Homo sapiens: one gene and its partners. The protein of the gene in region 1 interacts with the protein of each later gene in a pairwise test. Each region holds a gene or a part of one and is shown in the gene's direction. Other genes may lie near its edges.

Evidence for each region.
Region 2: the proteins of ZNF552 (region 1) and CCDC125 interact in binary tests that used the Homo sapiens proteins (3 or more experiments, as listed by UniProt).
Region 3: the proteins of ZNF552 (region 1) and ZRANB1 interact in binary tests that used the Homo sapiens proteins (3 or more experiments, as listed by UniProt).
Region 4: the proteins of ZNF552 (region 1) and CIB3 interact in binary tests that used the Homo sapiens proteins (3 or more experiments, as listed by UniProt).

Annotation. Positions count from the first base shown.
Region 1 is NC_000019.10:57,806,564-57,811,927, reverse strand, and holds the end of ZNF552 (zinc finger protein 552), read left to right. Parts: intron 1-2,824; coding exon 2,825-3,888; 3' UTR 3,889-4,846; downstream 4,847-5,364. UniProt on the Homo sapiens protein: May be involved in transcriptional regulation.
Region 2 is NC_000005.10:69,315,801-69,322,832, reverse strand, and holds part of CCDC125 (coiled-coil domain-containing protein 125), read left to right. Parts: intron 1-2,252; 5' UTR 2,253-2,292; coding exon 2,293-2,596; intron 2,597-7,032. UniProt on the Homo sapiens protein: May be involved in the regulation of cell migration.
Region 3 is NC_000010.11:124,966,100-124,973,131, forward strand, and holds part of ZRANB1 (ubiquitin thioesterase ZRANB1), read left to right. Parts: intron 1-494; coding exon 495-682; intron 683-5,865; coding exon 5,866-6,019; intron 6,020-7,032. UniProt on the Homo sapiens protein: Ubiquitin thioesterase, which specifically hydrolyzes 'Lys-29'-linked and 'Lys-33'-linked diubiquitin. Also cleaves 'Lys-63'-linked chains, but with 40-fold less efficiency compared to 'Lys-29'-linked ones.
Region 4 is NC_000019.10:16,163,520-16,170,551, reverse strand, and holds part of CIB3 (calcium and integrin-binding family member 3), read left to right. Parts: intron 1-810; coding exon 811-922; intron 923-2,267; coding exon 2,268-2,415; intron 2,416-5,638; coding exon 5,639-5,834; intron 5,835-7,032. UniProt on the Homo sapiens protein: Acts a an auxiliary subunit of the sensory mechanoelectrical transduction (MET) channel in hair cells. Plays a role in regulating hair cell MET channel localization and function.

The DNA of each region.
Region 1 (5,364 bases):
CCTCCCAAGTAGCTGGGACTACAGGCGTGCACCACCACGCCTGGCTATGTTTTGTATTTTTAGTAGAGATGGGGTTTCACCATATTGGCCAGGCTGGTCTCAAACTCCTGACTTCATGATCCGCCTGCCTTTGCCTCCCACAGTGCTGGGATTACAGGCATGATCCACTGCACCTGGCCTTCTCCATTGTTTTTTTTTTTTTTTTTTTTTTTGAGATGGAGTTTCGCTCTTGTTGTCCAGGCTGGAGCGCAATGGTGCGATCTGGCTCACCGCAACCTCTGTCTCCCAGGCCCAAGCAATTCTGCCCTCAGCCTCCTGAGTAGCTGGGATTACAGGCATGTGCCACCATGCCCGGCTAATGAAGGGTGGCCTGCCTCTCCACACCTGTGGGTGTTTCTCGTCAGGTGGAATGAGAGACTTGAGAAAAGAAAGAGACACAGATCCAAAATATAGAGAAAGAAAAGTGGGCTGGGTGCGGTGGCTCATGCTTGTAATCCCAGAACTTTGGGAGGCCGAGGCAGGCGGATCACGAGGTCAGGAGATTGAGACCACGGTGAAACCCTGTCTCTACTAAAAATACAAAAAAATTAGCCAGGCGTGGTGGCGGGCGCCTGTAGTCCCAGCTACTCGGAGAGGCTGAGGCAGGAGAATGGCGTGAACCCGGCAGGCGGAGCTTGCAGTGAGCCGCGATTGTGCCACCGCACTCCAGCCTGAGCAACAGAGCGAGACTCCGTCTCAATAAAGAATAAAAAATAAAAAAAAAAAAGAAAAGTGGGCCCAGGGGACTGGCGCTCAGCATACGGAGGAACCCTGCCTTCCCCCTGCCGCCACCAGTCTCCGAGTTCCTTCAGTATTTACTGATCATTATCTCTACCATGTGGCAGGTCAATAGGGTAATAGTGGGGAGAGGTTCAGCAGGAAAACATGTGAACAAATGTCTCTGCATCATAAACAAGGTAAAGAAAAAAGTGCTGTGCTTTTGATGTGCATATACATAAACATCTCAATGCCTTAAAGAGCAGTATTGCCTCCAGCATGTCTCACCTCCAGCCCTAAGGCGGTTTTCTCCTATCTCAGTATATGGAATATACAATTGGGTTTTAACACCCAGACATTCCATTGCCCAGGGATGAGCGGGAGACAGATGCCCTCCTCTTATCTCAACTGCAAAGAGGCCTTCCTCTTTTACTAATCCTCAGCACAGCCCCTTTACTGGCGTCGGGCTGTCAGGTCTTTCCCTTCCCATGAGGCCATATCTCAGGCTATCACATGGGGAGAAACCTTGGGCAATACCTGGCTTTCCTAGGCAGTGTTTTGTGTCCCTGGGTCCTTGAGAGTAGGGAGTAGTGATGACTTTTAACAAGCATGCTGCCTTGAAGCACTTGTTTAACAAAGCACGTCCTGCATAGCCCAAAATCCATTTAACCTTGAGTTGACACAGCACATGTTTCTGGAGCACAGGGTTGGGAGTAGGGTTACAGATTAACAGCATCTCAAGGCAGAATAATTTTTCTTAGTACTGAACAAAATGGAGTCTCTTATGTCTGCTTCTTTCTACATCGACACAGTAACAGTCTGATCTCTCTTTCTTTTCCCCAAAGGCTAATATTTTGTATTTTTAGTAGAGACAGTGTTTCTCCATGTTGGTCAGGCTGGTCTCAAACTCCTGACGTCAGGTGATCCGCCCAGCTCTGCCTCCCAAAGTGCTGGGATTACAGGCATGACCCACGACACCTGGCCCTTTTCTTCTCTCTTCTCTTTCCTCTTCCCTCTTCTCCCTTTCCCTCCCCTCTCCTCTCCTCTTCTCTTTTCTTTTTTGAGACAGGTTCTCACACTGTCATTTTTGTTACCTGGAGTGCAGTGGTGTGAATATAGTTCACACAGCCTCAACCTCCTGGGCTCAAGTGATCCTCCAGCCTCAGTCTCCTGAGTAGCTAGGACTGCAGGTGCACACCATCACACCTGGCTAATGTTTGTAGAGAGGTTTTGCTGTGTTGCTCAGGCTGGTCTTGATCTCCTGGGCCTGAGTGATCCCTTTGCCTTAGCCTCCCAAAGTGCTGGGATTGTAGGCATGAGTCACCATGCTTGGCCATTTTAAAAATAATTTCTGTAGAGACAGGGTCTCACCATGTTTCCCAGGCTGGTCTTGGATTTCTGGGCTCAGGTGATCTTCCTACATTGGGTTTACAGCTGTGAGCCACTGGTACTGGCCTCTTCCCCATTGTTAAGAACCTCAGAATTGTCAGTTGTACTCCTTGTCAGTTGTACTTTTTTTTTTTTTAAATCCTTTAACTGATTTGTACATGAGCTTGTAGTCTGATATTTATTCCCCTGAATAATCTTCACATCTCTGGACCTCACATCTTAATTTTATTCACATCTTCATCTGCAGTGGTTTCCAGTATTAGCATACAGGTTTTGTGTTAGCAAATGTGTACACTTTGTTAAACTGTCCTCAAGCAGAAGCTGCTGTGTTGTGCTTGTGTTTTCCTTGGCCTGGACAAATCCCTCTCTACAGCACTCGCATGTCATGAGGACATAAATTCTGCAGATGAGTGGTTTGCAGATGCAGGGATTGTAGACCCTGCCTCTACTCCCTGTGTTACATACATGGTTGTGTCCTTTATGTTATGAGGCCTCCTACATTCTGTGACCATTATAGTCCAGTAATAATACATAGCACCATCTTCCACCTGAAGCCAACATCCTGTTCCTCCAAGTACTTCCTTGGAGTAATTCCTCAGTTTTTCAGATACACTTGTGGGTGGTCTGTGCCTTCCCACCAGAGTTAACATGCACTTCACCAGCATTTTCTTGCTTTCAGGTTGTTGGTGTGGAGTGGAAGATGAGGCGGCACCTTCTAAGCAGAGTATTTATATACAAAGAGAGACTCAGGTCAGGACTCCTATGGCAGGTGTGTCTCCCAAGAAGGCCCACCCCTGTGAGATGTGTGGCCCGATCTTGGGAGACATTTTGCATGTGGCAGATCATCAGGGAACACATCACAAGCAGAAACTGCACAGGTGTGAGGCCTGGGGGAATAAATTGTATGACAGTGGAAACTTTCATCAGCACCAGAATGAGCACATTGGAGAGAAACCCTACAGAGGGAGTGTTGAGGAGGCGTTGTTTGCGAAGAGGTGTAAGTTGCATGTGTCAGGGGAGTCATCTGTCTTCAGTGAGAGTGGGAAAGACTTTTTGCTCAGGTCAGGATTACTCCAGCAAGAGGCCACTCACACTGGGAAGTCAAACAGCAAAACTGAGTGTGTGTCTCTGTTTCATGGGGGAAAAAGCCATTACAGCTGTGGAGGATGCATGAAACATTTTAGCACCAAAGATATACTCAGTCAGCACGAGAGACTGCTCCCTACAGAAGAACCTTCTGTGTGGTGTGAATGTGGGAAATCCTCTAGCAAATATGACAGCTTCAGTAATCATCAAGGAGTTCACACTAGAGAAAAACCTTATACGTGTGGGATATGTGGGAAATTATTTAACAGTAAGTCCCACCTCCTTGTACACCAGAGAATTCACACTGGAGAGAAGCCATATGAGTGTGAGGTTTGTCAGAAATTTTTTAGGCACAAGTACCACCTCATTGCACACCAGAGAGTTCACACTGGAGAAAGGCCATATGAATGCAGTGATTGTGGGAAGTCATTTACCCACAGCTCTACATTCCGTGTTCATAAGAGAGTTCACACTGGTCAGAAGCCTTATGAGTGCAGTGAATGTGGGAAATCTTTTGCCGAAAGCTCCAGTCTCACTAAACACAGGAGAGTTCACACTGGAGAAAAGCCTTACGGGTGCAGTGAATGTGAAAAAAAATTTAGGCAAATCTCTTCACTTCGTCATCATCAGAGAGTTCACAAAAGAAAGGGCTTATGAGTGCAGTGAGTCCAGTCTCATTAAATATTGGAGAATACACACCTGAGTAAGATCCTGTGATTGCAGCAAATGTGGAAAATGTTTACCCAAAGGTCTGCTCTCCTTGGATATTGGAGAGTTCACACTAGAGAAGAGTCCTTACAAGTAAAATAAATTTGGGCAGTTTTGTAGCCACACCTCTGTATTCCTTCAGGATTATAGTTAACACTGAATGAAGGCCTTACTAGTGTGACAAATACAGGATATTTATCCAGAAGTCTGGCTGCATAACTCACAGGAGAGCTGTCATGTGGGAGGATTGCTACATGGGAGGATTTGCTTGAGCCTGGGAGGCAGAGGTTGCAGTGAGCCGAGATTGCAACACTGCAGTCCAGTCTGGACCACAGAGTGAGACCCTGTTTCAAAAATAAAATATATAAATGACATCCAATAAAGTATGCATATTTGAGCTGTAGGATAAGTCTTGAATTTTCTTTTTCTTTTTTTTGAGACAGCCTCGCTCTGTCACCCAGGCTGGAGTACAGTGGCATAATCTCGGCTCACTGCAAGCCCTGCCTCCTGGGTTCATGCCATTCTCCTGCCTCAGCCTCCCTAATAGCTGGGACTACAGGCAACCACCACCACTCCTACCTTTTTTGTATTTTTAGTAGAGATGGGGTTTCACCCTGTTAGCCAGGAAGTTCTCAATCTCCTGACCTCGTGATCTGCCCGCCTTGGCCTCTCAAAGTGTTGGGATTGCAGGCGTGAGCCACTGCTCCTGGCTTGAATTTTCTTATAATCCCATGAAACCATCATCAGAGTCACAATAATGAATTTATCTAATCTATCACCTTTGTATTCACCTGGAGCCTTTATAAAGTTTTTCTCTATGCAGACAACCATTGATTTACTCTGCTGTATAATACTTTCCATTTTCTAGAATTTTCTGACTGATGTAATAAAGTGTTTCCTCTTATAATCCCTGGGTGCTCTCCTGCATCATGCTTATTTTGATATCAATGTAGACATGAGTTAATTTGTTGTATATTGCTGAGAAGTATAGTCTGCCATGAAATGTCATTATATATTCATTCATCCGTTTATGGATATTTGAGTTGCTGCTTGTGTTTTTTTGTGTTTTTTTTTTTGAGGTGGAGTCTCACTCTGTCCCCCAGGCTGGAGTGCAGTGGGGCAATCTCAGGTCACTGCAAGCTCTGCCTTCCGGGTTCACGCCATTGTCCTGCCTCAGCCAGTCCTGTGGACTACAGGCGCCCGCAAACACGCCTGGCTAATTTTTTGTATTTTTAGTAGAGACAGGGTTTCACTGTGTTAGCCAGGATCGTCTCGATCTCCTGACCTTGTGATCCGCCCATCTCGGCCTCCCATAGTGCTAGCATTACAGGCATGAGCCATCGCGTGCGGCTGCTTTTTTTTTTTTTTTAAAGACTGTCGACCAGGTTGGAGTGCAGTGGCGTGATTTTGGCTCATTGCAACCTC
Region 2 (7,032 bases), on another chromosome or scaffold:
TCCCAGCACTTTGGGAGGCCAAGGCGGGTGTATCATGAGGTCAGGAGTTTGAGACCAGCCTGACCAACATGGTGAAACCCCGTCTCTGCTAAAAATACAAAAATTAGCCGGGTGTGGTGGCGCGTGCCTGTAATCCCAGCTACTCAGGAGGCTGAAGCAGGAGAATTGCTTGAATCCAGGAGGCGGAGGTTGCTGTGAGCTGAGATTGCGCCACGGCACTCCAGCCTGGGCGACAGAGCAAGACTGTCTCAAAAAAAAAAAATTTTTTTTTTGTAGAGACAGGTTCTCACTGTGTTGCCCAGGCTGGTCTCAAACTCCTGGGCTCAAGCAATCCTCTAGCCTCAGCCTCCCAAAGCCTTGGTATTACAAGTGTGAGCCACCATGCCTGGCTAAGAATTTGAGGATCCAAGGAAATACACAGGGGTCCTGGAACCAGTTCCCCTTGAATTCCTTGGGATGATTGTATTTCAGTTTGTTTCTTTATTCCTCTCTTCCTTTATTCAGTTACTAAACAAGTATTTATTGAATGTAGAGTATATCTGCTCCCCACCCCCACGTGGTGCCTCACTCCTGTCATCCGAGCTACTCCAGAGGCTGAACTGGGAGAATCACTTGAGCCCACGAGTTGGAGACCAGCCTGGGCAACATGGTTAGACCTCATCTCTCAAACAAACAAATGAAAAAAAAAACCCAGCTGGGCGCGGTGGCTCATGCCTGTAATCCTAGCACTTTGGGAGGCCGAGGCAGGCAGATCACCTGAGGTCAGGAGTTCGAGACCAGCTTGACCAACATGGAGAAACCCCGTCTCTACTAAAAAAAAAATAGAAAATTAGCCGGGCATGGTGGCGCATGGTTGTAATCCCAGCTACTTGGGAGGCTGAGGCAGGATAATCGCTTGAACCCGGGAGGCGGAGTTTGTGGTGAGTCAAGATTGCGCCACCACACTCTAGCCTGGGCAACAAGAGCGAAGCTCCGTCTAAAAGAAAAAAAAAAGAGTTCTGAAATGTTAAATACTTATAATTGGATTGCAAGGGCATTTATGTGCGAGTGCATTGCTAGGATATTCATGCCTGTATAATACAGAAAGAAACTTTTTTCCCTGAAAAATTCAGCTTTATTATACAGTTATGCACCAAATTATGTTTCAGTCAATGACAGACCACATAGACAGTGGTGGTCCCATAAGATACTATTGTATTTTTACTGTTCCTTTTCTATGTTTAGGTATGTTTACATACACAAATATTGACCCATGTGTAACGATTTCCTACAGTATTCAGTGCTATACCATGTTGTACAGGTTTGTAGACTAGGAACTATAGGCTCTACCATGTAGCCCAGGGGTATAGTAGGCTATACCATCTAGGTTTGTGTATGTATGCTCTATGGTGTTCACACAACGACAAAATTGCCTAACAACACATTTCTCAGAATATATTCCCATCATTAGGTGACACATGACTTTACTGATGGGTTTTCTTCATTTTGTTTGTTAGGTTTTTTGTTTTTTTAATTGAAAATTGACAGATTATGGCTGCCTATATTTATGAGGTACAAAGTGATGTTATGATTTATGAATACAATGTGGAATAATTAAATCAAGTTGATTAACATATCCATCATCTCAAATACTTATCATTTTTGTGGTGAGAATATTTGAATTTTATTCTATGAGCAATTTTGAAATGTTCAATACATTTTTGTTATATTCACCATGCTGTGCAATGTATTGCAAAGGAAAAAACCTTATTCTTCCTGTCTAACTAGGACTTTGTGCCCTTTGACCATCATTTCCCCATTCCTCCCATCCCCCAGCCTCTGGTAACCACCATTTTTCTTTCTGCTCCTTTGAGTTTGATTGTTTTTTATTTTATACATAAGGAAGAACGTGGTATTTGTCTTTCTGTGTCTGGCGTATTACACTTAGCATAATGTTTTCTAGTTCCATCCATGATGTCCCAAGTGACAGGATTTCCTTCTTTTTCAAGGCTGACTAGTATTTCATTGTGTACACACGCACACGCACACACACACACACACACACACCCCACACCATATTTTCTTCACCTGTTCATCTTTGATGGACACTTAGGTTGATTCCATATCTTGGCTATTGTGAACAGTGCTACAGCAAACATGGGAATGTAGACATCTCTTTGACATACTGATTTCAAATGTTTTGGGTAAATATCGAGAGGTGGGGTTGCTGGATCTACTGATGTTTTCCTAACTACTGTTTTTCTTAACTACAGACAGCCCATTTTTTCTTATGATAAAGACGGCATTTGGCTCATGAGCAAGGTGGCAAGATCATCAAGTGAGTCAGACGTGCAGCTCTGGGAAACAGAAGAGGATGACATGACAGAAGGTGATTTAGGGTATGGCCTCGGAAGGAAACCTGGTGGGATTTATGAAATAGAATTTTCACATAGGTCTAGAAAAAGATCAGATGGAAAGAACTTTAGCCCTCCTCCATTTCCGAGAAAGGGAGAAGAAAGAAATGAAGCGAGTTTTCAGTATTCCAAGCATAAGAGCCAGCAAGATACATTCCCTCAAGTGTCCAGAATTTCCAATTACAGACGACAAAGTAGCACTGGTAAGAATGCTGAATTTCCTCTCCTTTCTTTCTCCTGTGCATAGTATCAAAGCTATAACCCTTCCAAAATCTAAAATAAATAACCATATTGGATTTTAGATTTTCTTTTTTTTCTGGACGGAGTCTTGCTCTGTCACCCAGGCTGGAGTGCAGTGGCACGCGATCTCGGCTCACTGCAACCTCCACCCCCCGGGTTCAAGCGATTCTCCTGCCTCAGCCACTGGAGTAGCTGGGATTACAGGCATGCACCACTACACCTGGCTAATTTTTGTGTTTTTAGTAGAGGCGAGGTTTCACCATCTTGGCCAGACTGGTCTCAAACTCCTGACCTCAAATGATTTGCCTGCCTCGGCCTCCCAAAGTGCTGGGATTACCGGCATGAGCCACTGCACCCAGCTTTTAGAAATTTATCTTTATTCATCTCTTGGGATTGGTGGTAGTATAAAAGTAGTTGATAGCCGGGCGTGGTGGCTCACGCCTGTAATCCCAGCACTTTGGGAGGCTGAGGCAGGTGGATCACAAGGTCAAGAGATCGAGACCATCCTGGCCAACATGGTGAAACCCTGTCTCTACTAAATATACAAAAAATTAGCCGGGCGTGGTAGCAGGTTCCTGTAGTCCCAGCTACTCGGGAGGCTGAGGCAGGAGAATGGCATGAACCCGGGAGGCGGAGCTTGCAGTGAGCCAAAATGGCACCACTGCACTCCAGCCTGGGCGACAGAGCAAGACTCCATCTCAAAAAAAAAAAAAAAAAGTAGTCGATGTTTATATTTCTAAATATTGTACAGTACAGTAGTTATGCATCTAATATATTAATGATATCTATAAATGATTACCAACCTTGCCTTTTTTGTGAAGTACTTTTTTTTGCAGTCAAATATTTACTGGGCATCATTAGGTGTCAGGCACAGGTCCAATTTCTGAGAATAATGTCAGTAAACAAAATAGACAAAGGCCCTAATGTCATGGATTTCACATTCTAATAGAGGAGATAGAAAATAAACCTGCAGGCCGGGTACAGTGGCTCATGCCTGTAATCCCAGCACTTTGGGAGGCTGAGGCGGATGGATCACTTGAGGTCAGGAGCTTGAGACCAGCCTGGCCAACATGGCAAAACCCCATCTCTACTAAAAGTATAAAAATTAGCTGGGTGTGGTGGCACGTGCTTGTAGTCCCAGCTACTCGGGAGGCCGAGGCACAAGAATTGCTTGAACCCGGGAGGTGGAGCCAAAATTGTACCACTGCACTCCAGCCTGGGCAACAGAGCAAGACTTTGTCTCAAAAAAAAAAAAAGAAAAAAAACCAAAACCCTGCAAATCAACAGATGTGTAACATTGGGCAGTGGTAAGTGAAGGGATAGTGAGTGATTATGGGGAATGGGGTGCTAGTATTTCAGGCCAGGGTTAGGAAGGCTTCTGTAAGGAGGTGACATTTTTTTTCTTTTTACTTTTCTTTTTATTTTTTATTTTTATTTATTTATTATGAGGTGGAGTCTCACTCTTGTCGCCCAGGCTAGAGTGCAGTGTCACAATCTCGGCTCACTGCAACCTCCGCCTCCTGGGTTCAAGGTATTCTACTGCCTCAGCCTCCTGAGTAGCTGGGATTACAGGTGCCCGCCCCCATGCCTGGCTAATTTTTTTTTTTTTTTGTATTTTTAGTAGAGATGGGGTTTCACCACGTTGGCCAGGTTGGTTTCAAACTCCTGACCTCAAGTGATCCGCCCACCTCAGCCTCCCAAAATGCTGGGATTACAGGCATGAGCCACCGTGCCTGGCCTTTTTCTTTTTTAAAAAGAGACAGTCTCACTGTGTCACTAAGGTGGAGTGCAGTAGCATGATCACAGCTCACTGCAACCTCAAAGTCCTGGGCTTAAGCAATCCTCTTGCCTCAGTCTCCTGAGTAGCTGAGACTACAGGCATGTTCCACCATATCCGGCTAATTTAAAAGAAATTTTTTCGGCCAGGTGCTGTGGCTCACGCCTGTAATCCCAGCACTTTGGGAGGCTGAGGCGGGTGGATCATGAGGTCAGGAGTTTCAGACCAGCCTGACCAACATGGTGAAACCCCATCTGTACTAAAAATACAAAAATTAGCCAGGCATGGTGGCGTGCACCTGTAATCCCAGCTACTCAGGAGGCTGAGGCAGGAGAATCACGTGAACCTGGGAGGCGGAAGTTGCAGTGAGCCGAGATCGCACCACTGCGCTCCAGCCTGGCGACAGAGCAAGACTCAGTCTCAAAAAAAAAAAAAAAAAAAAAAAAAAATTCTAGAGACAAGGTCTCACTATGTTACCCAGGCTGGTCTCAAACTCCTGACCTCAAGCAGTCCTCCCACCTTGGCCTGAGCACCAGAATGAAGGGGAGAGTAAGGCAGTGGATCTTTGGGAAAGGAGTGTTCCAGGAAGAACAGAGATGCTTCTGGTTATTTTAGGAGGTCATGAAACTCTCAAAAATTGTCAAAACAGTTAGTCTTAATTTATCATAACCAAAAAGAAATTATACCTTACCTTATGGAAATAATAAAATTTAGCATCGTATTTTGATAAAATGTTACAACTCCAAAATGATCGGGAGTCTGTGGATAAGCCCATGCCTGTACCATGGCACCAGCTGTTATCTGGCTAAATATTTTGTAATCTATGTTGTAAAACTTCCTCTTCTGAAACTTCCCCTCAAAGTTGAACAAACACAAATTAGAACAACATGAGAGTGATTTAAGAAACATGGTTTCAGATTTACAAAAATACGTGGTAGCTCGTGGTAGCTCAGGGTTCATCCCCATCCTTCAACATCCCTCTTGAAATCAGAATGGGATTATTTTTATATTTTTCTTCCAATTCCTTATTGTGTATAGAGAATGGATACTGTTTTGAAAGCAAAATGTTGGAAACTGAGCATGATGCTAAGATGCCTTTATAAAAACATGAAGATGCCAGGTGCGGTGGCTCATGCCTGTAATCCCAGCACTTTGGGAGACTGGGGTGGGTGGATCATGAGGTCAGGAGTTTGAGACCAGCCTGGCCAAGATGGTGAAACCCCGTCTCTACTAAAAATACAAAAAAATTAGCTGGGCATGGTGGCAGGTGCCTGTAATCCCAGCTACTTGGGAGGCTGAGGCAGGAGAATCACTTGAACCTGGGAGGCGGAGGTTGCAGTGAGCCAAGATCACACCACTGCACTCTAGCCTGGGCAACAGAGCAAGACTCCATCTCAAACAAACAAACAAACAGCATGAAGAAACACTGGGGTATAAATAAGATTTAAATAGTAATAGTATGAGTTCCCATTTTGTTGGGTTATGAACTTTTCTTTTTATTAAAGTTGGCCCTATCACTAATAGATAATTTCCAAAATACCACACATTTAATGGCTTAAAACAACACAAATTTATTATTTTACAGTTCTGTAGGTCAGAAGTCCCAAACAGGCTACGTCTGGTAGCTGATGCCTATAATCCCAGCATTTTGGGAGGCCGAGGTGGGAGAATCACTTGAGGCCAGGAGTTCGACACCAGCCTGGTCAACATAGAAAGACCACACTCCACAAAAAAAAGTTTAAAAATTAGCAGGTGTAGTAGTGTGCACCTGTAGTCCCAGCTACTTGAGAAGCTGATGCAGGAGCACTGCAGCCTGAGCAATAAAGCAAGACCCTCTCTCTGTGGGAAAAAAAGTCCCAAATAAATTTCAGTGGGCTAAAGCCAGGGTGTTGGCAGGGTGCGTTCCTTCTGGAGGTTCAGTGGGAAGACTCTACTCCTTTGCCTTTTCTAGCTCCAGAGGCTACTGCATTCCTTGGCTCATGGCCCCCTCCCCATCTTCAAAGCCAACGATGGCTGAGTCTTTCTCACATCATATCACTCTAACATTTACCTTCTCGTCTCCCTCTTTCATGTATAAGGACTCTTATGAGTACACTGGACTCACTTGGATAATCCAGAGTACTCTCCCATCTCAAAATCCTTAATCTCATCACATCTGCAAAGTTCCTTTTGCCATGTGTTCACAGCTTCTGGGAATTGGCATGTGGACATCATATTCTGCCTACCACAAGTATTAATAGAACAGAACTTGTCACTGCCAACCCAGAGTCACTCTGCCCTCCTTGGAAGCCTGTATCATCAATCACAGTACAAACATGATTTAGGTTTTGCCTTAGATACTGTCATGTTAATGAAATTTCAGAATAGCAAAGAAAGTTGTTTTGAGAAATATTTTTTCAAAGCAAACATTCTTCTCAATAAAATTTTTTTTTTACTTCCTATACTCTTGCTTATAACTTGCCACTTTAATTTTTTTTTTTTTTTTTTTTTTTACTGCCGTTGAGGCAGAAAGGAAAATGAAGCTCTTAGGAAGCTCAATTTAAATTCTCAGTTGATCACATTAAGGAGCAAATAATTGAAGTTACAGGACTCTTCTAGTCATTCTTTTTGGAAAGAAATTAA
Region 3 (7,032 bases), on another chromosome or scaffold:
TTGTTTCAAAGCTAAAGAGCAGTATGGAAAGCTCAGCATTTGTTTTGATTCTGCTTTAAGAATGCAGTGTAAAGGGCAGGAGGAGCTCAACACCAGCTGGAAGCACATCCCTGTCTCCTTGGTTTCTGCAGAGTCAGGATGAACGCAGGACCGGAACCAGGGGCTCAGTGTCTCTTGTTACGTCTGGTTTCTCATACTAGATTATTGATCTTCGATCCAATTCATGCAGCCTAATAGTTCCTCTAAATCTCACCAGAGCCTGGAGCCTGCACTGATGGTAAGGTAAATGTCTAGGCAGTTCTAGTTCTGGAAGGAAAATTTTTAAAGGGAAAGGAAAAAACTTATTTTCCTTACTCTTATAGGACATTTAAATGATGCATCAGGATCCAGGAAGCACAGAGAAACACTTAAAAGATTTTGGAGTGATTGCTACGGTTTGTGTTTTTTGAAGAAAATGAGAATTAAATGCTTTTCTATCTTGATGCTTGTTTTAGGGGTTGTAGAAGGTGATTTAGCTGCCATAGAAGCATACAAGTCATCAGGAGGAGACATTGCACGTCAGCTCACCGCAGATGAAGTACGCTTGCTGAATCGTCCTTCTGCCTTTGATGTTGGCTATACTCTTGTACACTTGGCTATACGTTTTCAGAGGCAGGATATGCTAGCAATATTGCTTACAGAGGTAAGTTTGGCGTTTTGGTTAAATGTTCTTTTATATTAAAGAAACCTGTTCTTTAGTTTTCATTTTTGATTTTATAATGTTTCTCTAAGCAGCTTTAAAATGTTTTGAATTCTTTTACCCCCTTTTAAAAATAACATTAAACTTAAGAGACTTAATTTTTAAGGGTATATGCTTTCAAATATTTGAATAGTCACAACAATGTTTGACTCATCATGTTTGGTTCATACAAACCTGGGATGTATCTGTCATTCTTTAGTCATTCAATTAACAGATATTTATTGTGCATTTACTGTGTGCCATGCACTAGGCTGAGAAGGGATACAATTGTAAAGATACTGGCTCTTTCTTCATTAAATCTCCAGCAAAGTAGAGAAATGAACAGGTAATTCTGTGCAGCCTGTGCCCTGGTAGATGTAAATGCCAAGTGTTATGCCAGTACTTGAAGAGTTTTGAGGTGTCTTGTCGTCTTTCTTATAGCAGGTAATGTTTTTGCTGCAATTTGAAGAGAAAGAGTTAGGAGTTAGCCACATGAAGTGGATAAGGGAGAGAAGGGAAGTTGAGGAAAGCATTTTTACAGGGGGCAGAGATGGTGGAATTTGTGGTGAATCTAGGGACTTGCAGGTAACTAAGCATGGCTGAGATGGTGATTGGGAATGGAGAGAAGGGAAGTCTGAAAGATAAGCAGAGGCTGGATTACGAAGGATCTTCTGTGTCAAGGAATTTGAAGATTATCCCTAGGCACTGGATGGTGTTAGGTATGGGCGCAGGGGAGTGAGCAGAGCAGATTGTGTTTTGGCTGCTGCACACTGGAGAGGGGTGAGCCTGGTTAGGAGGGAGTTGCAGAGGTGCTGGCAAGAACTTCTGCCAGAAGGGCAGAAGGGTAGCCATAGAAGGGTACCCAGAAGGGTAGCCTTAGAAATGGGAAGAGGGTTAGAGGGTTGGAGAGACTGAGACAGGCCCTCAGTCTGAAGAAGTAGACTGATTGGATATGGGAAGATACAGTGTGGATGTAAGTTGATTCTTCAGTTTCTGGCTTACATAACTAGGTACATGCTACCAATGATAGAGATTGTGTATGAATTATTCAGAATGTGACTACATTATCCAGGTTTTTTTTTTCTTTCTTTTTTTTTTTAAGCTGGAGTCTCACTCTGTTGCCCAGGCTGTAGTATAGTGGCACGATCTTGGCTTACTGCAGCCTCTGCCTCCTGGGTTCAAGCGAGTCTCCTTTGTCAGCCTCCTAAGTAACTGGGATTGTAGGCACATGCCACCATGCCTGGCTAATTTTGTATTTTTAGAAAGGTGGGGTTTCACCATGTTGGCTAGGCTGGTCTTGAACTCCTGACCTCAAGTGATCTGCCCGCCTCGGCCCCCCAAAGTGCTGGGATTATAGGCATGAGCCACCGTGTCTGGCCAAGGTAACATTTTTTAATGGTAAGAGAAATAGAGTAAAAGTGCAGAGAGTCATATTAATTGTGGATTCAAATTTTGTCAGTATACATCTTTCATATATACTTTTGCATATTTGTTTATTCAAATTTGCCAATATTTGGGAACCACTGCAGGGCACTGTATGGGGATTAAAAAATTTGAAGGTTAGATGGAAACATGATTGTAGTAGCTAACCCCTGTGTCCAGTTTGGTAAGATTCCAGTGAAGCCGGGGTGGGGGGCTTGAGAGACTGAAGGCCATGATGAAAACAAAAGGGCAGGCTTATTGAGTATAAGGGAGAAGGGAACTTTTCAGATAGAGGGATCCAGGTTTTGGAACATGAGATAGAAGAATTGGAGTTTTTCTAGTGTCGAAGGCCTGGCTGCATTTGTGTTGTGGTGCCTAGTTGTGTTGTCTATTGTATATTGGAAGGGCTGTCAATGTGGAGTTGTAGTTGCTGGTGGTGACAGGAGCCAGGATAAAGAAGGTGGTTGTGAACTAGGGTGAAAGTCTTAAGGGGCTCCCCTAAAGGTAGGTAGAAGATTATTACAAGGTTTTAGAGGGGCCATTGTGAGTCATTGAGCTCCTGAGACAGTCTGAGGAGTAACAGTGGGATGATGATCGAACATCAGTATATTTATTGCAGTATCACAGATTGTCTGGAAACTTAGCAGCTAAGACAACAAATGTATGTTATCTCACAGAGTTTGTGAGGGTTAGAATCCAGGAGCTGCTTAGCTGAATAGTTTTGGCTCATGATGTCATGAGGTTGCAGTCAAGTGGTCCAGGGCTGTAGTTGTCAAAAGACTCAACTGGGGCTAGAGTATCTGTTCCTAAGCCCACTCAGGTGGCTTTTGGCAGGAGGCTTCAATACTGTGCCATGCAGGCCTGTCTACAGGGATGCTCATGATACAGCAGCTGGTTTTACCCCCAACAAGTGATCCAAGAGAGGCACAGAGTACAAGAGAGTGATCCAGTGTCTTTGAAACCTGCAGTGTCTTTTATAAATTGATTTAGGAAGCAACATACCATTACTTTTGCTGTATTCCGTGGGACGTGTAGAACAACCCTGGAACAGCGTGGGAGAGGTGGAGGGGATTTGTTCCAGGCAAAGAGCAAAATTGGTCATGGATTCAGTCTCCATGGAGTAAATACTCCAAAGGACAGAATTAAAGGGGCCAGTAGGGAGACTGGAAGTGGGGGAGTCTGGACTAAGTCTAGACTAAGGGGGTGTGTTGCAGAGAATGCTCAGCCAAGTTCTTTTGGAATGAGAACAGGAGAACATTAGAGTTGGGGATATGTATGTGGGGCAGGAATTTTCATCGGTTTCTGTGTCATGGACCATGTTGGTAGTTTCATGAAACTTATGGACTCCTTCCCAGAATACTGTTTTTAAATACAAAAAATAAGAAGTAAATGAGATTACAAAGGAAATCAGTTGTATTGAAGTAATAGCTACCAAAATACTAAACTAAATTTGTGATATATAAGAAAATACATTTTAATATAGGTAAAAAGTTGGGGATAATTGATTTAACTTGAATTAAAACCAAATTCCCATTAAAGTACATGGACCATTCCCAAGATCATGGACCCTAAGTTAAGAACTCCCAGCCTACGGAGATGGTTGAGAACCATAAGGTTGAAGGAGGTGAGAAGGTGAGTGGCAGGCTTCAGGGGCACATCCTGCTTAAGGATGGTGGTGGAAGGGGTTGTTTGGGGGCTAAGTTTCTTTTAGAATGTTTGTGGTAGTCAGGGTCCAGTCCAGGTGGTTTTTGGAAAGGTCTTTCCAGGTTTTTGGAAAGGGCCTGAGAGCTAGCTGATGGGAATAAGCTATTTTTGAATTTACTTTGGGGGAGCCATTTTAACTATGTTACTTGAGAAATAGTCAATTATATTCTGAAAATATTTAATATTTGGTTTTCCATGTTTGAGTGTTGACTAATGGTTGGGCTCATGGAGTTAAGATATAGTGAGAATTTTCATGGTTAATGGTAATCTTGGCCAATAAAGTCTAGTTGAACTGAATTTCCACGTAGGAGTTTTTAAATTTTTTATTTTTTTCTTTTCTTTTGAGACAGACTTTCTCTCTGTTGCCCAGGGGAGTGATCATGGCTCACTGCAGCCTTGACCTCCCTGGCTCAAGTGATCCTCTCACCTTTCAGCCTCCCCAGTAGCTGGGACTACTGGTGCATGCCACTAATGCCTAGCTAATATTTTGGGGTTTTTTGTAGAGGCAGAGTTTCATTATGTTGCCCAGGCTGGTCTTGAATTCCTGAGCTCAAATGATCCTCCTGCCTTGGCCTCACACAGTGCTGGGATTACAGGTGTGAGCCACTGCACCAAGCTGCAGTTTCAGAATAGGGAGTCAGGTAACTGTGCTGGGTATGCAGGGTTTTTGAAATATTATTTCTTTAATAGCAATAGCAGTTAGTTGTCTGCATATATGATGTAGATAACATTATCATTAAACCTTACTCTTTGAGAAGAAGAAGAAGGGGCTGGAAGACCTGTTGCTTCACACCCCACTGTGGCTGGAAGGCTACCTTTGGGATAATCGTCCAGGTTGGTGACATCAGGGAACAGGCTCACTGTGGGTTCCCACGGTATTCTCTTTGGGGTTTTTTTTTTTTTTTTTTTTTTTTGGCAGAGTCTCTCTCTGTCACCCTGGCTGGAGTGCAGTGGCGCGTTCTCAGCTCATTTCAACTTCCTCCTCCCGGGTTCAAGTGATTCTCATGCCTCAGCCTTCCAAATAGCTGAGACTACAGCTAATTTTTGTAGTAGTATTTTTAGTAGAGACAGGGTTTCATCATGTTGGCCAGGCTGGTCTCAAACTGCTGAGCCGAAGCAATCCACCCGCCTCGGCCTCCCAGAGTTGGTGGGATCACAGGCGTGAGCCATTGTGCCTGGCCTTGAATTCTGTTTGTTACTCGCAGATGCTCAACTGTGATTTTAGAATTCTGTGTATGTATTTTTATTTAGCTCCACAAACTAGATATGACTGAAATGTGAGGTTAAATTAAATCTTTGCAACATTTGTTGCTATTTAGCATTTTAAAAAGAATAAAAAAATAACAAAAGAAAGTTCTAGCCTTCTTTGGTTTGTTGTTTTCTTGCTTAGAGGCCTGTGCAGTAGTGCTCCCATCTCACTCCTGTCAGGCTGAGCTTCAGAGGTTGGCAGTCTGTGTTTAAACTTGCAGATGCCAAATGCTTTTTTAAAAACTCAAGAGTGGTAACAAATGGAGAGGAAGAAAGGGCTTGAGGTCAGTGGGAACTAACCCTTTAAATACCGTGCTTTTTTTAAGTCCAAGTTAGGGTACTTGAAACTTGTGGTGTGGGAGAAGAGTATTTGCAGTTTCCCTTTATCAGCTGTGATTCTCTGCTTCTAAAGAATGTTTTTATTGTGTGCACGATGGTTAGTCTACTGAGGTTTTCTGTCCTCTCTCCTCTTCCTGTGATGTGTCTATGAACAACACCCTTTTCCATACATTTTTATGTGCATCTTTGAGTATTTCCTTGTGATAAATTCTTAAAGAGAATTACTGAATCAGAGGATAAAACATTTTTGTGACTGTTACTGAAAACTTATTCTGGTATATACTTTCATTGGTAAGGAAATAATACCAGTGTATTTTAAGATTAAAGAAAACCTTGAGTTATTGGGAAATTTTGCTGATTTCTTTTAAATACTGTTGTTTTCTGCTTCCACTTATGATACATGAGATGAGAGGAAGGTTTCTTTTGTATTTAAGGTGTCTCAACAAGCAGCAAAGTGTATTCCAGCAATGGTGTGTCCTGAACTGACAGAACAAATCCGGAGAGAGATAGCTGCCTCTCTTCATCAGAGAAAGGGGGATTTTGCTTGCTATTTTCTGACTGACCTTGTAACATTTACATTGCCAGCAGGTAACTCCAAAATCTAACGTAAAAAGACTTTTTTATTTTATTATAGTTACATTTGTGTATGTAGGTGAAAAATGTTTCTGTTAGAAAGCACATAACATAGCTACTGTATGTGCATCTTAAATTACTTGACTGTCTTATATATGCTGGAAGTGAGCATACAGAGGATTACTTGTTAGGAAATGCGTCTGCTATCTGAGAGGAAGACAGCAGTTGATAGTAACGGATTTCTTTGTGGACCTCAGATTATTTTTTAAAAATCTGTTGTACTCTTTTATTTTTCTCTTTGGTTTTATTTTAGAATATCCTTTAAAAAAATCTCCTTTGAAAAATTTTCCCTTTTCATGCTTGTGTGTTATTTGAAATTAGATAGCTATATTGGTTACCTGGTATTAAGAGATGGGATTAGAACATGAGCTTTTGATGGGTAGAGTCAGGTTATTTGAATTGAACACACTGCATCCTCTTGAATATGTCATTCCTTTTTTACTCATTTATTTCTACTATGTTTGTGAAGGAACTTTTCATTTTTCAATTCATTGACAGTTGAAAACATCCTCCAGAATGCGTTTTGTCAGTTGGCATTGAATAAATACACCAAACACCAAACGTTTCTAAAATCTTTCATCTGAGATTCTGAGATCTGTTTGTTTTGTTGCTGTTTTTTTTTTTTTTAGATTGAAACGGGGTCTTGCTCTGTTGCCCAGGCTAGAGTGCAATGGGCGTGATCATAGCTTACTGCGCCTTCAACTTCTGGGCTCAAGTGATCTCCTGCCTTGACCTCCTGAGTAGCTAGGACTATAGGCACATGCCACCCACCCCTGGCTAATTTTTAATTTTTTTGTAGAGATGGAGTCTCGCAGTATTACTCAGGCTAGATCTCAGTGTTTTTAATTTTTATGTTCAGACAAACGGATTTTTACAAATTGTAGGAGATAGTAACTAAGTTTTCTGAAACTGGAGGAAGTTTCATTTGAAATGCACTTGTTCTGAGTATTTAAGCTTACCCCAGAATG
Region 4 (7,032 bases), about 42 Mb from region 1:
GCTGCATCCGGCCTCTTCCTCCCATTATAAGGAGAGGAAGGGAAGGTATGAAAGTGAAGGTATCTTTGGAGGCAGGGTCTTGCTGATAACATGACAATATCCAGAGATGTGTGGATTATATAGGATTCTCTGAATGCTTGCTGTGATCTGGCCATAAGCACCCTCCCTTCTCCCAACTCCATCTGCTTTAGAAGCTCCTACTCATGCTTCAAAGCCCAGAACCAATGTCCCCTCTTCCAGGAACCCCCTTCTCCTCGCTAGCTTGCTTCCCCCAGTCCAGTCTCCCTTTGTCCTGTGGCCCTCTCTGCACCTTGACCCTGCCCCCAGGGAGGTTAGGGGTGCCTGTGTCAGGCTCTGTATGCTTGAGGTCCAGGCCCAGGGCTGAGTGTTCTTGGGGACCCAGTATACCTCAGTGTGCAGTGAGCAGCTGTGAATGTGAAAGAGAAGGGACTTGGCCAGGTGCGGTGGCTCACGCCTGTAATCCCAACACTTTGGGAGGCTAAGTCAGGTGGATCATCTGAGGTCAGGAGTTTGAGACCAGCCTGACCAACATGAAACCCCGTCGCTACTAAAAATACAAAAGAATTAGCCGGGCGTGGCAGGGTGTGCCTGTAATCCCAGCTACTTGGGAGGCTGAGGCAGGAGAATTGCTTGAACCCGGGAGGCAGAGGTTACAGTGAGCCGAGATTGTGCCACTGCACTCCAGCCTGGGTGACAGACCGAGACTCTGTCTCAAAAAACAAAGAAGGGACAAGCGTCTTGCCTGCTCCCTGCTCCCAGTCTTTCCCAGCTTTTTCCTCCCCACATCAGGCTCTTCTATCGCTACCAGGACCTGGCCCCACAGCTCGTGCCCCTCGACTATACCACCTGCCCCGATGTGAAGGTGCCCTACGAGCTCATTGGCAGCATGCCCGAGCTGAAGGTATGCCCAGGCCATGGGACAAACAGGGTAAAAAATAGTAGAGATGTCTCTCGTTGCATTCCTCTGAGGTCAGTGCTGCAGTTATCCCCATTTTAAAGATAAGAAAACTGAGACTCAGAGAGGTTAAGACACTTGTTCATGGTCACACAGCTACAATGTGACAGAGACAGGGTTAAAACCCAGAGTTGGCTGGTGTGGTGGCTCAAGCCTGTAATCCCAGCACTTTGGGAGGCCGAGGCGGGTGGATCACCTGAGGTCAGGAGTTCGAGACCAGCCTGGCCAACATGGTGAAACCCCGTCTCTACTAAAAATACAAAAATTAGCTGGGCGTGGTAGTGCACACCTGTAATCCCAGCTACTAGGGAGACTGAGGCAGGAGAATTGCTTGAACTCAGGAGGTGGAGGTTGCAGTGAGCAGAGATCTAGCCACAGTACTCCAGCCTGGGCGACAGAGTGAGACTCTGTCTCAAAAAACAAACAAACAAACAAACAACAAACAAAAAACACCCAGAATTGGGAGGATGAAACGAGATAATACAGGCAACAAATTCAGTACAGGGTGTGTTGTGTGTCAAGTACTCAGAGAACGTTAGTTCTTCTTGTAACAGGAGCTGCTAAATGCAGGTTTTTATCAGCAGGATGTTTGACACATGGTTTGTGCCTCCAAGGGGAACTTGTGGGTTGAGTAACTGACTGTGAGTAGGGTTGATTTTATTGCAAGTGACAAAAACCTTATTTGAGAGGGACAGAATGGTTTGGATCAAAATGGATTGCCCCTGAACAACAACAAAAAAATCCAGAGGCAGGGACAGTGTCAGGTACAGCTGGAACCAGGGCCTCTGATGATGTGCTCAGGAATCTCCCCCCATATCTCGGCTCCTCCCAGGAAGAGGTTTCAGTCTAAGGCAGCCTCACCTCTTGAGGCTGTGAAGGGACCTCTCAGCCACTCAGCTTTAGCTTCTGTGAGCTTTGCAAGCAGCAGTAATCAGGTCCCCTCCCTCCCAATTTTTCAGAAAAATATCCCAGGTCAGCCTCTGATTGGCTAGCTTGAGTCACATGCCCATCACAGAGCCAATCACTATTGCCAGGTGAATGGAACTCTCTGATTGGCCTTGCCTGGGTCACATGGCTGCTCCAAGAGCTGGAAGTTGGGGCAAGGTTGCTCAGATCACAGGGGTGGAGGGTGGAGTTGTCCAAAGTCCTGTCCAGGGACCATGGGAGGGAGTGGGTCTTGATGGAGGGTACTTGGAGGTTCCCAGAAGGTGGGTGCTGATAGTGAGACCACATGGACCCCAGAGACCTTGGGGGTCAGAGGATGGCCTCCCAGCTTCCTTTCTGTCCCCAGGACAACCCCTTCCGCCAGAGGATTGCCCAGGTATTCTCTGAGGATGGGGATGGCCACATGACCCTGGACAACTTTTTGGACATGTTTTCCGTGATGAGTGAAATGGCTCCCCGCGACCTCAAGGCTTACTATGCTTTTAAAATTTATGGTGCGTGCGTGGCCCTGGGGTTGGGAAGCATGGGGATGGGGTGGGGAGTGGGAACTGGGTGGGTGGCACCCACATCACAAATATCTCCCCAGGGGTTTTGAGGCCCTATGTGGCCCTGTCCTCCACCCCACTCCAATGCCTCCCCACCTCATTTATTTGCTAACTCTATTCCAGCCACATGGGCCTTGCTGTTCCTCAAACACAGTCTTCGGCCTCTGGGCCTTTGCCTCTGCTGAACCCTCTGCCTAGAACACCTTTCGCCTTGCTCCTTATTTATTTATTGATTTTTATTTTTTATTTTTTTGAGATGGAGTTTCGCTCTTTTTGCCCAGGCTAGAGTGCAGTGGCTCAATCTTGGCTTACTGCAGTCTCCGCCTCCCAGGTTCAAGTGATTCTTCTGCCTCAGCCTTCCGAGTAGCTGGGATTACAGGCAGGTGCCATCACGCCTGGCTAATTTTTGTATTTTTAGTAGAAACGGGGTTTCACCATGTTGGCCAGGCTTGTCTCGAACTCTTGACCTCGGGTGATCCGCCCGCCTCGGCCTCCCAAAGTGCTGGGATTACAGACGTGAGCCACCGCACCCAGCTCCCCTGGCTCCTTCTTACCCTTGAAGTCTAGGTCAAAAGTAGGCCTCTCCCCATTCATCCCCCCATCCCACCATCCTATTTCTCTTCTAGCACCAGGCAATGCTGCTTAATTTCTTGTTCCTTGACCTGTTCACTTCTTATTGACTTTGTCCCTGAGAAGACTCAAAGGTACCAACAGTATCTATTTTGCTCACCACCTGTCATCTGAGCCTGGCTCAGTAAATATTTGTTGAATGACTGAATGAAAGAAAAACAGTTATCTTAGTGCCTGGCACCTTGTGTGCACTCAATAAATACTTGTTTTTTTTGTGTGTGTGTTTTTTTTTTGTGAGACAAAGTCTTGCTCTGTCCCCCAGACTGGAGTGCAGTGACGCGATCTCAGCTCACTGCAACCTCCGTCTTCCGGGTTCAAGCAGTTCTCCTGCCTCAGCCTGCTGAGTAGCTGAGATTGATTACAGGTGCCTGCCACAACGCCTGACTAATTTTTTGTATTTTTAGTAGAGACGGAGTTTCACCATGTTGGCCAGACTGGTCTCGAACTCCTGACCTCAGGTGATCCACCCGCCTCAGCCTCCCAAAGTGCTGGGATTACAGGCATGAACCACCACGCCCAGCCAAATTTTTGTATTTTTAGTAAAGATGGGGTTTCACCATGTTGGCCAGGCTGGTCTTGAACTCCTAACCTCAAGTGATCCACCCACCTCGGCTTCCCAAAGTGGCAGGATTACAGGCATGAGCCACCGTGCCCTGCCACCATAATACTTTTTGAGTGAGTACATGAAAAATAGTTATCATGGTGCCCAACACATAGTAGGTGCTCAATAAATACTTGTTGCATGAATGAATGAATGAAAAAGTTATCAGAGTACCTGGCACACAGTAGACACTAATACTTGTTGAGTGAGTGAATAAAAGAGTTATGGTGCCCAACATGTAGTAGGTGCTCAATAAATACTTCCTGAATGGATGAATGAATGAATGAATAAATGAAAAAGTTATTACAGTGCCTGGTGCACAGTAAGCAGTTAAAAAGTACTTTTTGAGTGAATAGATGAAAAAAGTTATCACAGTGCCCACTACACAGTAGGCACTCAATAAATACTTGTTGAGTGAGTGAATAAATGAAAAACAGATATCATGGTGCTTGATACGTAGTACGTGTTCAAGAAATACTTGAATAAATGAATGAAAGAGCTGTCACAGTGTTTGGCACATAGTAGGCACTCAATAACTATTTTTATTTATTTATTTTTTTACTGAGACAGCGTCTCACTCTTGTCGCCCAGGCTGGAGTGCAATGGCGCGATCTCAGATCACTGCAACTTCCACTCCCTGGGTTCAAGCGATTCTCCTGCCTCAGCCTACCTAGTAGCTGGGATTACAGGCACCCGCACCACGCCCCGCTAATTTTTGTAATTTTAGTAGAGATGGGGTTTCACCATGTTGGCCAGGCTGGCCTGGAACTCCTGACCTTAGGTGATCTACCCATCTCCACCTCCCAAAGTGCTGGGATTACAGGCATGAGCCACTGCGCCGGGCCCATAACTGTTTTTTGAATGAGTAAATGAAAAATTATTATCACAGTGCCAGGACACAGTAGGCACTCAATAAATACTTGTTAAGTGAGTGAATGAATGAAAATTGCACTCAATAAATACTTGTTGAGTGAGTGAGTGAATGAAAATCAGTTACTGTGATGCCTGACACATAGTAGATGCTCAATAAATACTTGTATGAGTGAATAAAAAAGTTATTACAGTGCCTAGCACACAGCAGGCACTCAATGCTTGTAAAAATGAATGAATGAGGTTGGGTGTGGTGGCTTCCACCTGTAATCCTAGCACTTTGGGAGACCGAGGTGGGTGGATCACCTGAGGTCAGGAATTTGAGACCAGCCTGGCCAACATGGGGAATCCCATCTCTACTAAAAACACAAAAATTAGCCGGGCATGGTGGCAGGCACCTGTAATCCCAGCTACTTGGGAGGCTGAGGCAGGAGAATCACTTGAACCCAGGAGGTGGAGGTTGCAGTGAGCCGAGATCGTGCCACTGCACTCCAGCCTGGGCGACAGAGCGAGACTCCGTCTCAAAGAAAAAAAAAAAGAACGAATGAAAAATTCATTGCATAAATACTTGTTGAATGAATGAATGAACTCCCAGCAGGTCCCTGCCCAATTTTAAGGCAAGTTCCAGATTTTACACCAGGGTCTCGGGTGCCCTCCCAGGGCCTCAGTTCCTTTTTTTTTTTTTTTTTTTTGGACGGAGTTTCTGTCTTGCTGCCCAGGCTGGAGTGCAGTGGTGAGATCTTGGCTCACTGCAACCTCCACCTCCCGGGCTCAAGTGATTCTCCTGCCTCAGCCTCCTGAATAGCTGGGATTACAGGTGCATGCCACCACACCTGGGTATTTTTGTATTTTTAGTAGAGATGGGATTTCACCATGTTGGCCAGGCTGGTCTCGAACTCCTGACCTCAGGTGTTCCACCCTCCTCAGCCTCCCAAAGTGTTGGGATTACAGGCGTGAGCCACCGTGCCCGACCTTAGTTTCCCCTTCTTGTAACATGGGCACAGTATGTGCCCACAGCCGGCCTAGCCCTCCTGCCACCTGCTGTCACTCCCCATCCATCCTGCTCTGCAGATTTTAACAACGACGACTACATTTGTGCGTGGGACCTGGAGCAGACGGTGACCAAACTGACGCGGGGGGGGCTGAGTGCCGAGGAGGTGAGCCTGGTATGTGAGAAGGTGCTGGATGAGGCTGATGGAGACCATGATGGGCGGCTGTCCCTGGAAGATTTCCAGAACATGATCCTCCGGGCACCAGACTTCCTCAGGTGATGCTCTCCGTCACCGCCCACAGTCCATTTGCACATCTGAAGGGGCTCTTACGCAGACAGTTCACAGACTCTGTTTCTGAAAATTCCTCTATTCATTCTTTCATGACCTTGGGAAACTTTCTCAATTTCCCTAGTCTCAGTCCCTGCATCTGTAAAATGGGGATAATTAGGGACCCCCTGGGCACCTCTTGCGAGTGGATACACCTCTTTCAGCAAGCAGAATGTGGCTGGACTTCAGCCCTTGTTGCCTGAACAGTTTGCAGTGAACAGACTGTGTAACTGTACTTGGCAGCCTTTGGGGAAAATCAGCCGCCACTGCAGGGCAAAGTACGGCCAATAGGCCAGTCTGACCCAAAGCCTGGTTTTGTACCTCCTGTGAGCTAAGAATGGCTTTTATATTTTCAAAAGATCAAAAAACAATCAAAGAATAATAATATTCCAACCAGGTGGGGTGGTTCATGCCTTTAATCCCAGCACTTTGGGAGGCTAAGTGGGGAGGATCTCTTGACCCCAGGAGCTTGAGACCAAACTGGGGAACATAAGGAGAGTCCATATCTACAAATAAATAAATAAATAAATAGCCAGGTATGGTGGTGCATGCCTGTAGTCCCAGCTACTTGGGAGGCTGAGGCGGGAGGATTGCTTGAGCCCAGGAGGTCAAGGCCGCAGTGAGCTCAGATTGTGCCATGCACTCCAGCCTGGGTCACAGAGTGAGATTCTGTCTCAAAAATAAATAAACACATTAAAAATTTTTTTTTAATTTAAAAAAAGATTATTCCATGACACGTGACAGTGATACGAAATTCACTTTTCTGTGTCCATCAGTAAAGTTGTATTGGCTCACAGCCACACCCATTTGTGTACATTTTGTCTATGGCTGCTTGTGTGCTTCAACAACAGAGTTGCGTCATGGTATAAAGTTGAAAACATCAACTATTTGGCCATTTACAGAAAAAGGTTTGCTGAACCCCAAATTAATATATGGAGAAAATTCAGCACAGCTCCTGGCACACAATAGGTGTTTAATAAATTGCTGTTGCTATTATTATCTTATAATTTTTAAATTTCACTTTATTTTTTATTTTTTGAATTGACAAATAATGATTGTACATATTCATGGGGTACACAGTGATGTTTCTTTTTGTTTGTTTGTTTGTTTTGAGACGGAGTCTTGCTCTGTTGCCCAGGCTGGAGT